Linked DNA regions of Homo sapiens. The protein of the gene in region 3 purifies or fractionates together with the protein of the main gene of each other region. This does not show direct contact. Each region holds a gene or a part of one and is shown on either strand. Other genes may lie near its edges.

Region 1 (6,998 bases), on a different chromosome or scaffold from region 3:
GCATAACCAGAATCTGGGGAGATACGTGTGTCTGCCCCTCCCTTCGGCACCTGGAGCCAATGTCTTCTGAATGCCAAGCCCTGATCCAGGAGTCTGAGAAGTTATTCTGCCCTCCTGAGCCTCAGCATGCTCATTGGAAAAATGCACGTGGGAATCCACGAAACTCAGAAGGAAAACTGGCTGTGGGGGTTTAGATGAAATGATAACTGCAGCCTAGCTGAGCTCAGAGCACCCCCACCCCTGCCCCAGGGCCTGGAGTTCCCTGGACCCCTTGGAGAGCTTACATGGCCGGATGGGTGGTTCCATCCCTCACACCACTCCAAGATTCAGGGGGCTCAGGGGGTGCAAATCGCAGCGGACCTAGAGGTGGCTTGGCAAATGGAATTCCCAGGAAGGTTTGGACCCCGGCATTGGCGCCCTTCACATGGACAAGACTCCCCAGCACCTGCCCCGTGTGTGTGGTCCGGATGGGACTGGCTGAGTCCTGGCCTGTGGGCAGAGAGACAGACATCACGGTTGGGTTTGACCAATCGACTGCCCTCCCAACTGTTGGTATTGCTGCTTCCTTGCCATCCTCATCTTAGCTCAAGGGACTCTGATCTGTAAACATGGGCTTTACAAACTTCCTGCCTGTAACACTCCCTTCCCGCTCTGGCTTCCTGGGCCTGTCTCCATCCCACCAGGCTGAGGCTCCTTGGGGCCAGGCATCATCATTCAGCCCTAGGACCTTCAAACAAAGGGTCACATGCCCTTGATGGGACTAGAGTGTCCTTCAACTGTGTGCCAGGTCATGTGACAGTAGGATGATGGTGGGAATTGGGCAGGCAAGTTTCTTGTCCTCAGGGATGTCATGTCCAAAGTGGCAAGAAATCATGTAAAGAAAGCATCATCCAAACCATGAGTGATGTTGGTGAAAAGAGGTGCAAGAGAAAAGTATGGCTGTGGCTGGGATATAAAAAGCACAGTGACTGGCCTGGGGACCATAGTGGGACTCTGTCTCTGCAAAAAAATCAGGAAATAAATTGGCGGGGTGTGGTGGTGCATGCCTGTAGTCCCAGCTGTAGAAAAGCCTGGCTCCAGAAAGTGGGTGAGTTTATGACTGTTTAGATGAAAATCAAGGACAAGTGCACACATCTATTCTTGTGTAAACTGCTGGGCACTGTGTGTACTGCGGTGTCAACAAGCAGTTTCCAGTGTGGGCCATGGGGACTTTGATGGCCCCTGAGGAGAAGCCAGGACTGGTTGGGTAAAAAGAGGATGGCACACATCACCTGTACCCTCCTATGGCTTGTCAATTATTTTTTCTGAATGTGGGTCCAACCCAAAATTTTGTATACATATATATTTGTCAGACAAGGTCGCCATCTGTTGCCCAGGCTGGAATGCAGTAATATGATAACAGCTCACTGCAGCCTCCACCTCCTGGGCTTGAGATCCTCCCGCCACAGCCTCCTGAGTAGCTTGGAGTACAGCTGTCTGCCACCATGCTTGACTTTTTTTTTTTTTTTTTTTGGTAGAGACAAGTCTTGTTGCCCAAGCTGGTCTCTAACTCCTAGCCTCAAGTGATCCTCCCATCTCTGCCTCTCAAAGTGCTGGGATAACAGGTGTGAGCCACTGTGCCTGGCCCAAAATATTTTAAAAGGTAGCCATCTGTGAGGCCAGGCAGATCTTCCTGCTGGGCTCCTGGTGAACTCTAGAATGTGGTCAAGGGCAGGCACGGGAGGAAGCCCTGCAGCAGTGCACCATGGGGCGGGGGGAGTATGGACTCCACCTGCGCAAATTAAATTGGGGAAGGGTTGGAAGAGACAGATCATACACTTAGGAGAGTTTCGGGTGAGAGGACCAAAGGCCGAAACACTCCCCCAGCTTCTGATAAGGGCCTGGAGAAGCCTGGCAGGCACACAGAGCCTTCACCTTTGCCCTGGAAGCCAAGTTGTGCCCTTGCCCAGGATGAGGTAAATGGCATGAGGGACACCACGAGCTCTTTGGTTCTTGTTTCTGGAGACAGATTTTTGCTTTTTCACCCAGGCTGGAGTGCAGTAGTGGGATGAAGGCTCACTGCAGCCTCAACCTCCCCTACTAAAGTGATCTCCCACCTCAGCCTCCCAAGTAGCTGGGACTACAGGTCACAGACCACCACAGCCCACTAATTTCTTTCAATTTTTTGTACACTCCGAGTCTCACTATGTTGTCCAGGCTGGCCTCCAACTCCTGGGCACAAGCGATACTCTCCCTTGGCCTTCTAAAGTGGTGGGATTAAAGGAGTGAGCCAATCGCACCCAGCCACTGTGGCCTCTTAGATCTGCTTTAGGATTTGGCGCCTGGGGGCTTCTGTTCCCCAAGGACCACTATCCTTGTCTGAGGCCCCTTTGGAGGGCTCAGGGCATCCCCCCTGGCCAAGGACGCCACACACTGAGAGCCAGATGCTGCCAGAAGCTATTACTGTTATTACCGGCCGGCAGCACCCGCTACAGCCACAATCATAAGAGGGAAATGGACTGAATCCCCACACCCCAATCCCTCACCCACTCCGACCCCAGGCTGCCTACCCGGCCTGGCATGTCCCGGCGCTCCTGGGGCCCCTGTACTCCGCTGGTTCCTTGCCGTGGTGTCCCCCAGCCCGACCCTTTCTGTGCTTCTAGGAGCCCACCTTGGGCGGCGGGGAGGCGTTGCGTGGGGCTCACGAGTTCCACGCTGTCATCTCCACCAGCTCCTACCTCCCAGGCGCCTGCCCTCCCGCACTGTCAGGTTCTGCCTCCGCAGCATTTGGCAGATCTGAGCCCGGTCCCTGTCGCCCCTCCGAGGGAGCCTCACCCTGGCCCCGGACAAGAAGCAGCAGAAGCCCACAGGCCACCGCGCTCAGCCGCGCACGAAGTCTGTGCAGCCGCATGGTCGGCTCGCTGGTCTCGGTTCGCTGCCGGCGGACACGCTGCTGTTCACCCAGAGGCTGCCCCGGGTCTGTCCAGCAGTGGATCAGTGCCTTGCCCAGCCTTGGAGTTTGGACTGGGCAGGGAGTCAGCGGGGTGCGCTGGCTTGGGCCGGGAAAGGTGGGTGTGGTAGGAGAGCGGGACTGAGCAGTCATAGGTGGGTGGGGATCTAGTGGTAGGCAGGCCCGGGCACGGCCACTTTCCTTTGCCCGGGCTCCTTTGGCATCCTCGGAAGGGGCTGTGCCATTCCTGCAGCCCTTCCGCGATCCAGGGAATCCTCTCTTCAAACCTGTCCTTGTCCACAGGCCCGATGAGCGCGCTGGGGGATCGATAGGAGGGGGCAATAAACTAGAATTGGAGACCCCAGGAGGGCTTCTCTGAGGATGTGCACGTTCAGGATCCCCCAGATGGAGAAATGGGAAGGAACTTGATCGGGGTGAAGGAACCGCTTGAGCAAAGGCAGGAAGGAGTGTCGGCGCCCTTCATTCTGGAAGTTCCTCCTTGCTTTCAGGACTCAGTTTCCTGGGTTCCCCTTCACGGCCCCTCATCTCCTTACAGTCCAGGGTCTGAGGGTCTCCGCGGTCCCCTCCCTACTCAGTCACGCCATTCTTTTGAAACGTACACGTGACCGCGGCACTTCTTAAGGAGCGCCCCCCTTTTCCTCGGTGGCTTTCAGTTTCCTCACCTCCCGCGGAGACCACGGCCATGGTCATTTATCCACTTGACAAACATTTCACGAGCCCCTGCCGGTCCAAGCTGTGGGGACGCCGTACTCCCGGGCCTATGGTGCAGCAGGGGAGGCAGGCGCGTCACCGGGAGGTCCCGAGACACTAGGATCCCTGCCAGGCCAGAGGCGACCAACCGTCCTGGATACGGGAGCTCCCGGCCAGCCTGACTTCCAGGAGGAAGCGGTGTGGGGATTACCTCCGACCGCCTTTAGTGCCCCCTGAGACCTGGTTCTGGCCTCTACGTTTCAGCCCGCTACTGGCTCGCACGACCCAGCGCCGCCGTGGTCCCTTCTCAGCGCCTTCTGCTCCAGCGACCATCATGTTCCCGGGTCCGAGCAGCCAGGGCCGCGGTCACCGCTTCTCTCGCACCTCAGGCCGAGAACCCACAACGCGGCGTGTCCCTCGCGCGACTCCGTCGCCACGCCACGCCCCCTTCCCGTTCTCCGGAAGTGCGCGGGTTGGAGCGGAAGCGCACGCCTGCTAGGATCAGCGGTGGTGGTTCCGCGATGGTAGGCGGCGGCGGGGTCGGCGGCGGCCTCCTGGAGAATGCCAACCCCCTCATCTACCAGCGCTCTGGGGAGCGGCCTGTGACGGCAGGCGAGGAGGACGAGCAGGTTCCCGACAGCATCGACGCACGCGAGATCTTCGATATCCGCCGCTGCTGGGCGCGGGCGGGTTCCGGGGGCTTGCGGTGGGGGGAGCAGTGATATCGAGCAGCTGGTGGAGCCGCATCCCAGCAGGGCGTTCCTGGCAGAGGGTTCTAAGTGGGCAAGGGCGCAGAGTCCCTTTTCCTTCACTTCCCACATCTGATTCGCTCCATCAATGACCCGGAGCATCCACTGACGCTAGAGGAGTTGAACGTAGTAGAGCAGGTGCGGGTTCAGGTGAGTCACTTCCGAGGGGAGCGAGTTGTTCCAGAGAGTCAGAAAGGTTTCTGTGCAGCAGGAGCTGGCGTGCTCTATGCTCACGAACACCGAAGGGTATCTTTGGGGAGGGAGATTGTTGTGCCTATTTTATGGGTGTTGAAACTGAGGCCCATAGAAGTTGGATGATTTGCCCAAAACAACAAACTAAGAAGAGGGACCTTGGGCTGAGGGTGGTTGACTCTTGACATCTCTCCTCCACAACCAGGTTAGCGACCCCGAGAGTACAGTGGCTGTGGCTTTCACACCAACCATTCCGCACTGCAGCATGGCCACCCTTATTGGTCTGTCCATCAAGGTCAAGCTTCTGCGCTCCCTTCCTCAGCGTTTCAAGGTCAGTTGGAGCTGAGCCCCGGGAGTGAGACCAGGCATTGAGGGTCTACTGCTGAGGATGGGGACTGGGAGAGCATGAACATGGATAGGACATCAGAGTGGGGCCTGGAAGGATCCCCATTAGCAGAGAGGAAACTGGGAGGAAGCTTTCCAAGTCGATGTGACAAGAATAAAGATCTGAGCTGGAAAGTGGAGAAAAGTATTGAAGAGTGTGGCAGGAAGGGCAGTAGGGAGCGGCAGATGGGTTTGGACCAGGGGTGGGGCACAGGCAGGCCTTTAAATCAACAGTAGTGGGCCAGTTCTTTGGATAGAATTGGAATAGCTAGGGCCGGGCGCGGTGGCTCACGCCTGTAATCCCAGCACTTTGGGAGGCTGAGGCGGGTGGATCATCTGAGGTTAGGAGTTGGAGACCAGCCTGGCCAACATGGTGAAATCTCATCTCTACTAAAAATACAAAAATTAGTGGGGCGTGGTGGTGTGTGCCTGTGGTCCCAGCTACACGGGTGGCTGAGGAAGGAGAATCAAATTGAACCTGGGAGACAGAGGTTGCAGTGAGCCGAGATTGCGCTGCTGCACTCCAGCCTGGGCAACAGAGCAAGACTCAGTCTTGGAAAAAAAAAAAGAATTGGAATACCTGTGGATGGGTTTGGGGTGTAACGGAAGGGCCAGAGTCCAAAGGCATGATTAGGAGGAAGGATCAGCTGGAGATGGTGCCTGAGGGTCTGGGGGCTGCAGGGAAAAGTGTGGGTCGGTGGGTGGGTGTTCAGGCCCTGGTTATCTCCCTCCCAGATGGACGTGCACATTACTCCGGGGACCCATGCCTCAGAGCATGCAGGTAAGTGTGGACTGGTGGTGAGGGTGTTGGCCCGGGCACCCCCTAAGCAGTCTGAGGCTTCCCCCTTGCACAGGAGTCTATGGGCAAGACTGGAGATGGGTAACTGTGTGAGTGAAATTGCCAGAGACTCCTCAGTATGGGTTATAGCCTAGACCGAAGCTGGCCTGAGAAGACTCTCCTTTGCTTACCATGTCCTCTTCTCCCAAATCCCCTCTCACCAAATATACAGGACCAGAGTGTGTCAGGCTTCAGCAGCGCAGGAGGCAGCCAGGGGGAGGGATCCTAAGAAGGCAGATTAGGTGGGCTCAGGTGGTTGAAGTAGCCTGATCAATATGTGGGGTCCTGGGAAGGAGGTGACAGGAGGGCTCTGTTGCTGCGGGGGACATATCCTATATAGAGGTTCAGAGGTAGGGCTGGCTAGCACTCTGGCCAGAGCCTAGCTTTGACTCTGCCTTCCCCACACCCTTCTTCCCACCTAGTGAACAAGCAACTTGCAGATAAGGAGCGGGTGGCAGCTGCCCTGGAGAACACCCACCTCTTGGAGGTTGTGAATCAGTGCCTGTCAGCCCGCTCCTGAGCCTGGCCTTTGACCCCTCAGCCTGCATACTGGTATCCTGGTCCCAGCTCCTGCCAGGGCTGTTACCGTTGTTTTCTTGAATCACTCACAATGAGAAACTAACATTTTGCTTTTTGTAATAAAGTTAATTTATATTCAGTTCCCAGCATGCCTTGGTGTCTTTCATCTTGGTGGAGTCATTTGGAGTTTGAGGGGGGGATGGTGGTAGTAAGTGCCTCTAAAGGGTGGTGTACTTGCAACTTTTCGTAAAATAAAATCAAAATGGAAAGAGTAGTGTACGAATGTGCCTGTATGCTCACCACCACCAGTAGAGTCAACAGTTGTTGACATATTGCAACACTGGCCATATTTATGTGTGCATATATAAATATCAGTAAGTAAGCTGCAGAGACTTGACTCTTCACTTTGAAGTACTGCAGCTCCTATAGTCAATATAAGCCTGTATAGCCACAATACTTTTATCTGATCAGAAAATGAACAGTTCCTCAACACCATCTAATACCCAGGCATATCTGGATTTCCCTAATGTGTCATCATAGTTGTTTTTGTTTTGTTTTTGAGACAAGGTCTTACCCTGTTGCCCAGGCCCAGGTGCAGTGGCAAGATTGTAGCTCACTGCAGCCTCCAACTCCTGGGTTCAAGCAATCCTCCAGCCTTGGCCTCCCAAGTAGCTTG
Region 2 (2,636 bases), on a different chromosome or scaffold from region 3:
ATGTTTGTATTTTTTGTAAGAACTGGGTTTGGCCATGTTGCCCAGACTCCTAGACTCAAGCAGTCCACCTGCCTTGGCCTCCCAAAGTGCTAGGATTACAGGCATGAGCCACCACACCCGGCCCCATCCTTATCTTTGGCACTTAAGATTCTTCTTCCCTGATGTACCTCAAAGGCTCTTTTTTCTCCAGCTCATGGGCCTCCTGAGTGACCCAGAATTAGGTCCAGCAGCAGCTGATGGCTTCTCTCTGCTCATGTCTGACTGCACTGATGTGCTGACTCGTGCTGGCCATGCCGAAGTGCGGATCATGTTCCGCCAGCGGTTCTTCACAGATAATGTGCCTGCTTTGGTCCAGGGCTTCCATGCTGCTCCCCAAGGTGAGGAGTCTGAAAGAAGGTCCCCACATATACACATCTCTCCTTTGCTTGGCCACATTCCCTAAGATAATTTAGGGCCCGCTTGCTTCTTTAGAGCTATATTGTGGTCTGTGCCTAGAAGACTAAACTTCTAGATTCTTGTCCCACTTCTTCCTTTCATGGGCGTATCTTGCTTATTCTGAGCGTGAAGGGCTCTTTCACCCGTTTGTAGGCTGATGTCTCAGCCTCACCACAGATTGGAATTGATTTCTCAAGCTATATATCTAAGTCCAATTTCTCCCCTAAGCCTTTCCATTTTTTACAGATGTGAAGCCAAACTACTTGAAGGGTCTTTCTCATGTACTTAACAGGCTGCCCAAGCCTGTACTCTTGCCAGAGCTGCCCACGGTAAGTCCCACAGGCAGAGCTTCTAAGCAAAGGACAAAGCTATTCTTCCCCAGATGGGGCTAGAAAGGGGAGGGAACAAGAACCAGGATCTTCATGATGTGGCCATCCCCTACCTTGCCCATTGCCCCTTAGCTTCTTTCCTTGCTGCTGGAGGCCCTGTCCTGCCCTGACTGTGTGGTGCAGCTCTCCACCCTCAGCTGCCTTCAGCCTCTTCTACTGGAAGCACCCCAAGTCATGAGTCTTCACGTGGACACCCTCGTCACCAAGTTTCTGAACCTCAGCTCTAGCCCTTCCATGGTGCGTTGAGCCCCAGCAACTCTTAGGCACCAGCATCTCTCCCTGGGCATGCTCTCACCTCCTTGTGGTTGTGTTCCAGGCTGTCCGGATCGCCGCACTGCAGTGCATGCATGCTCTCACTCGCCTGCCCACCCCTGTGGTAAGTACCTCAGGTGTCCTTCCCTGGCCTGGGAACATCTCAAGAGACACATAAGTACCTTTTTGCCTTAGTCAGGTGGGCTTGGCCACCCTGGTGTGTAATTGAGATCTGAATTACAAGGTACAGATCTTGTAATTCTGGGCCCAAGGATTCTTTTCCTTGGGCCCAGAAGGTAACAGAAAGGCCATCCTGCCACTTAACATCCCTTGGAATCACTAAAGATGTTTTGCTTTCCTCAGAATATTAGTTGTACAGAATCAAAAAAGCGGTACTTTCAGTTGCCTTGGATGAGCAAGGTTGATTATATCCTCTGACTCCACAGCTGCTGCCGTACAAACCACAGGTGATTCGGGCCTTAGCCAAACCCCTGGATGACAAGAAGAGACTGGTGCGCAAGGAAGCAGTGTCAGCCAGAGGGGAGTGGTGAGTTTCTAGGTCGTGGGGAGAGATGGGACCAAGATGAGCCTCATCACTAATGCTGCCAACTTTCTTTTTGCCTACAGGTTTCTGTTGGGGAGCCCTGGCAGCTGAGCCCTCAGTCCTGGCCTAGACTGTTCTGACAATCTAACCTGGGATTACTAACTGTTGAGCCATCTTCCCCAAAGCAGGGAAACCACTGGTCTCTGACTGCCTTTCCCACAGACACAGCACAAATGCTAGGCCTCTGTTGCATGGCTGTACAAAGAACATAAGAGTCCATATTTCTAGTGGATTTGTAAAATAAGTGTGTGTGAGACACTTGCGTTTGAAGAAAGATCTAGGGTCCTGGGTCTCTTGCATTTATATGTCAGAAAAGGGGCGATATGCTGCTGAGGGGTGAGTGCATATGAGTGTGGCCCTGAGGACCAGGGCTGGCAGATGTTGTCTACCTGCTGAAGAATAAAGATTTCTTTTGGTAATGGGGCTGTCAGATATTTCCCCCACCCCACATATGCCTCATATAACCAGAGGCATCACTGGAATAACAATGACAGGGATTGGCCAAAAATTTTTCAGGGTAACCAGGACAGTAGCACATGCCTGTAACCCCAACACTTCAGGAGGCTGAGGCAGGCGGATCACTTGAGGCTAGGAGTTTGAGACTAGCCCTGGCAGTATAGCAAGAACCCATCTCTACAAATAATTAAAAAAAAAAAAAAATTAAGCTGGGCATGGTGGCTGACGCCTGTAATCCCAGCATTTTGGGAGGCCGAGGCGCATGGATCAGTGGAGGTCAGGAGTTCAAGACCAGACTGGCCAACATGGTGAAACCCCATCTCCACTAAAAATACAAAAATTAGCCAGGTGTGGTGGCATACGCCTTTAATCACAGCTACTTGGGAGGCTGAGACACAAGAATCACTTGAGCCGGGCGCGGTGGCTCACGCCTGTAAAGCTTGTAATCCCAGCACTTTGGGAGGCCGAGGCGGATGGATCACAAGGTCATGACATCGAGA
Region 3 (7,077 bases):
CAAACTGGACCTTCTGAGCTCAAGTGATTCTCCCACCTCAGCCTCCCGAGTAGCTGGAACCACCATGTCCGGCTACTTTTTTGTTTGTTTTGTAGAGACAGGGTCTGGTCATGTTGCCCAGGCTGGTCTCAAACTCTTGGGCTCAAGTGAAACAACTGCCTGTGCCTCCCAAAGTGCTAGGATTACAGGCATGAGCCACCGTGCCTGGCCCCAGATTTTTATAATTTTCATATTTTATTCTTTATTGATTAGTCACTGAGAGGGTAAGAATTGTGTAACTTCTTTCTTGTCCATATTTTCTCTTCAATTTTTACTGTGAAGGCCAACATAAAATATTTAAGGCAAACAGATTTTTTTTTTTTTTTTGAGATGGAGTCTCACTGTGTCACCCAGGCTGGAGTGCAGTGGCGCGATCTCGGCTTACTGCAACCTCCACCTTCCAGGTTCAAGCGATTCTCCTGCCTCAGCCTCCCGAGTACCTGGGACTACAGGTGCCTGCCACCGCGCCCGGCTAAGTTTTGTATTTTTAGTAGAGACGGGATTTCACCATCTTGGCCAGGCTGGTCTTGAATTTGTGACCTCGTGATCCACCTGTCTCGGCCCCCTAAAGTGCTGGGATTACAGGCATGAGCCACTGTGCCCGGTCCAGGCAAACAGATTTTATTCCACTTTTCCTTGATCACTCTTTTGTTTTTTCTCTCCAATGCTTTTTCTCTATTTGAAATTTTGCACTATTGTTGCTTTCTTCTGAAGTATTCATATAGAGTTGTTAAAACAACTGAAGTCAGACTGCCTAAGCTTTAGGTTTCTTCTCTGTTAAAAGAGATAACAAGATAATAATAGCACTCCTCATTTATAGGGTTACTTATGGGTGGTTATTGGCACACATTTATAAGTGTTTGAAAAAATCTTAGCTTTACTATTATTTTATAGATTTACTTGCATTTTTAATGTTCTTGGTATACACCAATTGGTTTGTTTACTTATTACCAAATATTTATAAAGCATTTAGTGTTATATTGTTGGCTGAAAAAACAGGAACAAAATAGGATGGTGTATATTTATGAAGCTTAACTCTAATTTAAGAAACAAAGCATTATTTTTTTTTTTCTTTGAGACGGAGTCTCACTGTGTTGCCCAGGCTGGAGTGCAGTGGCGCGATCTCAGCTCACTGCAATCTCCGCCTTCCAGGTTCAAGCGATTCTCCTGCCTCAGCCTCCCGAGTAGTTGGGACTACAGGCTCATGCCACCATGCCTGGCTAATTTTTTGTATTTTTAGTAGAGACAGCGTTTTACCATGTTAGCCAGTATGGTCTTGATCTCCTGACCTCGTGATCCGCCCACCTTAGCCTTCCAAAGTGCTGGGATTACAGCCGTAAGCCATCGTGCCTGGCCTTTTTTTTTTTTTTTTAATCTTTTTGAGATGGAGTTTCGCTCTTGTTGTCCAGGCTGGAGTGCAATGGTGTAATCTCCGCTCACTGCAACCTCCACCTCCTGGGTTCAAGAGATTCTCCTGCCTCAGCCTCCTGAGTAGCTGGGATTACAGGCATATGCCACCACACCCAGCTAATTTTGTATTTTTAGTAGAGACAGGGTTTCACCATGTTGGTCAGTCTGGTCTTGAACTCTTGGCCTCAGGCGATCCACCCGCCTCGGCTTCCCAAAGTGCTAGGATTACAGGCGTGATCCACTGCACCCGGACTTACTGGTTGCTTTTCAAAGGTTGTACAGATACTATAAATATATTTAACCAATACTCTATTGAGGAGGAGCCGGAGAGGGTTTCCAGTCTTTTGCTATTGTAAGCAATGCTTAAAAAAATACTCTGGAACATAGGTCATTGTAAGCAATGCTTCAAAAAATACTCTGGAACATAGGTCATTGTAAGCAATGCTTCAAAAAATACTCTGGAACATAGGTCATTATGTATATTTCTGTAAGATAAATTCCTAGAGGTAGGGTTACTGACTTCAAAGGATTTAGACTAAAGGTGCTTAAAGAGAGAGGTTTCACCTGTTAGTTAGTTTTTGTAGCCAAAACTTGAAAACATCCTTTCTTCCTCTTTTTTCGTACCTATCAATCACCAAGTCTTGCTGCTGTTACCTCCTCAATTTGTTTAAATCTGTCCTTCCTTCCCATTCCTCCCAGCCAACAACTCAATTTAGGCTTTTACTATTTCTTCATGTCTGAAATATCGTCCTCAAACCCATTGTCCTGAGAGAATAATCTGCTCGAACACATTCATGTTGCCTACTACATACATCCAGGATTAAGTCTAATGCCTTTGAATACACAAGGTTCACCTTGATCTAGTCCCTGTGCTTCCCTTTCTCTGGTAGACTTCTCCCATCACCAGCTTCACTCTCTTTGCTTTTACACTGTGGAATAATTCATCATTTCAGGCCTCCTTGCTTTTGCTCTGGCTGACTCTCCAGCTTGGAATGCCTTCATCCATTTCCCTTACTTCACCTTTGTGTTCCTGTGCATTCATCTTTCATAGTGATTGCTATTCTCTACTGAAATGAATTTTTTCAAAATAGCCTGCAATTGCAATAGGCAGTACTTTTTTTCTTTCTTTTTAGCTCTAGCATCTATCACAGTGCTTGTGGTCATGGGGTACATACTCAGTAAAATATCTTTTACTGAACTCAACTAGATCTTGGGGGAAAAGGGGTGGAGTCATTCATTCATTCATTCATTCATTCAACATATGTTTATTGAGAAGCTATAAACATAGGCACAAGGTTATGTGCTAGGTAGTGCGATTACAACCAAGAAGATAACCCAGGGCCTACTTTTGGTCTAGTGAAAGAGATGGAATTAGATGGGTATGGTGGTGTGCACCTGTAGTCCCAGCTACTTGGGAGGCTAAGGCATGAGAATCTCTTGAGGCTAGGAGGGAGAGGTTGCAGTGAGCTGTGATGGTAACACTGTACTCCAGCCTGGGTGACAGAAGAAGACCCTATCTAAAAAAAAAAAAAAAAAAAAAAAAAAAGTAGGGCAACATAAATACACAATTTTAATTTAGGTGGGTAAAGACAACAGTGGACCCCAGGGCACAGTTTAGATTATTTTATGGATATGGATAAACAGAGAAAAGGGTGGTTTTTTTTTTTTTTTTTAAATCTATTTTAGAGACTGGGTCTCACTGTGTTGCCCAGGCTGTTTTCAAACTTCTGAGCTCAAGTGATCCTCCCACATCAGCCTCTTGAGTAGATGGATGGCATTTTAATTAGATGAAATTGTACTAGGAAAGGCATTTGCAAAACAAAGTAATTGCCCCAAATCACTATGAAACCCTAAGTCAGGCATAAAACTCACGATTTCTGACCCTTCTTCATGGCCTATTGCCTCCTATTACCTTTACTTTTTCAAGTAAAGATATTCTTCTGGTAAACACATGGTCAAATACAGTGTCTTGGGTAACGAATAGTAAAGTGAGATAACATATGTAGAGAAAGCGGGTGAGAATCCGTACTCCATAAAAGTATTTTCTTTCCATAGGTGTCTGCTAAACTGCCATCTAAGTTTTCCAAAACAAAAAACAAAAACACTTGTGTGGTGCTCAATGATGTATATTAAGTGAAACCTACCAACTGACCTTTATCCTTTCCTTCCTGTTTTTTTAATATTAAAGAAGAGACCTCTTTTCACAAATGATTGAGGAGGCTAGTAAAATGCAGTGAAAAGAGCAAGTTCTTTGGGAGTCAGACAGCATCGGATCCAGCCCAGAGCGCAGCACGACTAGTAGAGTAACTTAGATTAAGTCCTTAAACTTCCAGTGTCCTCTTTTGTAAACTGGGAATAATAATAATAATAAATAAATAGTGAATAATATTTATGCAAAGTACTTAGCACAGTGTCTAACACATAAAAGCTTAGGAGAAGTTGGCTATTAAGCATTTCTAGGAACCCGAGGACTCAGGGTTGTTATTTTAGTTCTTGGAATCAAAGGAACTTGAAGCGTAGTCATTCCTAAACTAAGTTAAACCAGAACTAGCGCTTTCAGCAATGATGTAATTTGATCTCTTCGGGCCACCGTCGCTGAGCATGCGCAAATAAACGTGGCGGGACGTATGTGTCATGGCGCTCTCCATCTAAAGTCTGTGCAGCTTCCGGAGAGTGGCGGGTTGATTTTCTCACTTTGGACTGGTTTTTACTTCCCGACTTCTGGGTAAGGGTGGCCGATGGGTCCATGTGGGGCAGAGTGTGGCCACAGCTCCTTTTATGGCCAAGCCTTGTTTCTCCAGTTTCAGTTTTTCTTGGGCTGTTTGCAAATTTGTTTCGCAGTTAAAAGGGGATTTGCCAGCTGGGATGGGGGAATTGGGAGGCAGATGGGGCTTCCAGGAGCGAGGATAGGGTCGTTGGCCTCAGGTGCCGCTCTCCAGTTAGGAGTATTTTAGGCACCTCGTTCCTTATTGTCAGGTTTAACTTCATTTGTTCTCCCACTTTATACCTTAGTGAATTTGTAGATGTGACAAGGCTTTCGCAGTTATATAGCTTTCCCAGATCAGTATGTTAAGAATTTAAGCAGAAGTTATTGAGAAAAGCAGGTGTCTTGCTTTTTCACTTTTCGTTCTTCTTTGCTCATAAAACCTTTTTCTGAATCTCGGGACGACAGTTATCTTTCGGATGGAACGTGATCTGGATGTCTATCTACCTTATTGACTTAATCCTGTTTTGTAGTGGTTGGTTACTCGCACTATGCAGACGTGTTGCGGTGCTGAATACAACATTTATTACTAAAGCCAGACACTGGATCACCGTCACGGCAGATGTCAGCACACCTGTTGTAATCAGTAAGAAGTTACAAGTAGTATGGAGCATCATTAATCCTGCTGTATAAAGCAGTCTTTTATGGAGTCTGATTCCTTTTAAGTAAAGAATCCTTACAGTGGTTTTGTGAACTTTTTGGGTGCTTACTTTTCCTAATCAATTTTTATTTTCCAGACTCATCTTTCAAGAGGACTTTAGACTAATTGCAGATAATTAAGGTACTGATTTATTTTAAACCTTTTATGTTTGAGTGCTGTGCGTATTTCTGCATGTTAGAAAATGCAGAGAGGTAGCCTAATGTTTTAGCTATTTGCCACTATCATGTTATGGAAACATTGTGCTTTACATAGCATTAAATCGAAGAGATATTTTCATTTATTTTACTTAACCTTTCATTTTCATTCACCAGCATTGACCATGTCCACTTTTTTGAGATGCCCTTTTCATTTGCCTTCCATGGCCCATGGATTTTTTTCCTTGTCTGGTGGCTGCTTCTTGGAATCCATTATAAGCTGATTTTCCTTTATCTGGCAGTTAAATTTGGAGTCTCTCAAGTCGTGGTCTTGTACCTTCTCCTACCTCTGTTCTCTTTTTCTTCCCCTCTGGGTGATGTAATCCACATGCCTGTCAACAGTTATTTGTCTTTTTGATTCTACCCATCCTAATGGGTATGAAGTGGTGTATTATTGTGGTTTGGATTTCCATTTCCCTGATGGCTCATGATGTTGACATCTTTTCATGTGCTTATCAGCCATTTGTATGTGTGTGTTTTTGAGACACGGCTTCCCTATGCCACCCAGGCCAGAGTGCAGTGGCTCGATTACGGCTCACTGCAGCCTTGACCACCTGGTCTCAAGTGATCCCACTTCAGCCTCCCAAGTAGCTGGGACTACAGGTGCATGCCACCATGCCCGGCTAAATTTTACTTTTTTTTTTTTTTTTGTAGCGATAGGGTCCGTGTTGCCTAGGCTCTGGCCTTGTACTCCTGGCCTGAAGTGATCCTGCCACCTTGGCTTCCCAGTGTTGGGATTATAGGCATGAGCCTCTGCACCTGGCCCATTTCTGTATCTTCTTCATCTAATCTGTTTTTCCTTTTGTTGCTTGTGCTTTTCATTTCTTAGCTAAGAAAGAAGGGCCTACTCTAACATCATAAAGATTTGTGCTTATGTTTTTTTCTAAGAGTTTCATAATGTTAGCTCCTAAATTTAGGTCTATGATCCATTTTCGGTTAATTTTTGTATATGATGTGAAATGTGAAATAGGGCTCCAACTTTATTTTTTACATGTTGCTATCCAGTTATCCCAGTGTCATTTGTTGAAAAAAAAACTACGCTTTCCCCCTTGAATTGTCTAGGTTATGTATATTTGACATACATTCTAGGTGGTTTTTATGAAAGAATAATTCTGGGACAGTGATTATCAAACTTTAATTCAGATCAAAATCACCTAGAGGGCCTGTTAAATATTGCTAGGTTTTACTCAAAATATCTGATTTAGTATGTCTGGAGTGGAGTTCAAGAATTTTCATTTCTGGCTGGGCATGGTGGCTCATGCCTGTAATCCCATACTTTAGGGGCCAAGATGGGAGGAGTTTGAGACCAGCCTGGACAACAAAGCGAGACCTTGTTTTTACAAAAAAACTGAAAAAGAAAAAATGTTCATTTCTAACAAGTTCCCCATGATGCTACTCCAGCTGATGTGGAAACTACACTTTGAAAACCACTGGACATTGCTTTGCAACTGTGGCTGTACACACATGAGAATGACTGGAAAGTTTTTAAAAGATATTGATGCCCAGGCTCCATTCTCAGAGATTCATTCAGCTATCTTGGGGCTTAGTTGGGAATTTTCTTTTTTTTCTTTTGTTTTTGTTTTTGTTTTGAGACAGAGTCTCGCTCTGTCGCCCAGGCTGGAGTGCAGTGGCGTGATCTCGGCTCACTGCAAGCTTAGTTGGGAATTTTCAAAAGCTCTTCAGGTGAATAGAATGAGTGTTGAAGATTGAGAACCATTACTGTGGAATCGTGGTTCTTAATTAGGGATCTATAGTGGAATTACCTGGACAGTTTCTATGTTCACATACTTCAGTTCTACTCTTGGAGATTCTAATTCAGAATGGAACCTGGAGATTTGATATGATGAAAAGCTTCCCGCTGGGTGCAGTGGCTCACGCCTGTAATCCCAGCACTTTGGGAGGCCAAGGCAGGTGGATCACCTGAGGTTGGGAGTTCAAGACCAGCCTGACCAACATGGTGAAACCCCGTCTCTACTAAAAATACAAAATTAGCTGGGCGTGGTGGCAGG

The links. The genes of interacting proteins can lie anywhere in the genome.
Region 1: the proteins of CDKAL1 (region 3) and CIAO2B purify together in Homo sapiens (affinity purification with mass spectrometry; 3 studies listed by BioGRID and IntAct, with this or other methods). This does not show direct contact.
Region 2: the proteins of CDKAL1 (region 3) and MMS19 purify together in Homo sapiens (affinity purification with mass spectrometry; 5 studies listed by BioGRID and IntAct, with this or other methods). This does not show direct contact.

The regions. Positions count from the first base shown.
Region 1 is NC_000016.10:66,931,528-66,938,525, reverse strand, and holds CIAO2B (cytosolic iron-sulfur assembly component 2B), read left to right. Parts: upstream 1-4,123; 5' UTR 4,124-4,161; coding exon 4,162-4,303; exon of another isoform or gene 4,304-4,459; coding exon 4,460-4,539; intron 4,540-4,786; coding exon 4,787-4,912; intron 4,913-5,700; coding exon 5,701-5,746; intron 5,747-6,225; coding exon 6,226-6,323; 3' UTR 6,324-6,461; downstream 6,462-6,998. Other genes in the region: CES2 (cocaine esterase isoform 1 precursor), read right to left, coding at 285-489, 2,815-2,890.
Region 2 is NC_000010.11:97,457,787-97,460,422, reverse strand, and holds the end of MMS19 (MMS19 nucleotide excision repair protein homolog), read left to right. Parts: intron 1-190; coding exon 191-377; intron 378-681; coding exon 682-764; intron 765-896; coding exon 897-1,061; intron 1,062-1,140; coding exon 1,141-1,200; intron 1,201-1,522; coding exon 1,523-1,623; intron 1,624-1,703; coding exon 1,704-1,731; 3' UTR 1,732-2,099; downstream 2,100-2,636. UniProt on the Homo sapiens protein: Key component of the cytosolic iron-sulfur protein assembly (CIA) complex, a multiprotein complex that mediates the incorporation of iron-sulfur cluster into apoproteins specifically involved in DNA metabolism and genomic integrity.
Region 3 is NC_000006.12:20,530,401-20,537,477, forward strand, and holds the start of CDKAL1 (threonylcarbamoyladenosine tRNA methylthiotransferase), read left to right. Parts: upstream 1-4,056; 5' UTR 4,057-4,174; intron 4,175-4,180; exon of another isoform or gene 4,181-4,799; intron 4,800-4,950; 5' UTR 4,951-4,994; intron 4,995-7,077. UniProt on the Homo sapiens protein: Catalyzes the methylthiolation of N6-threonylcarbamoyladenosine (t(6)A), leading to the formation of 2-methylthio-N6-threonylcarbamoyladenosine (ms(2)t(6)A) at position 37 in tRNAs that read codons beginning with adenine.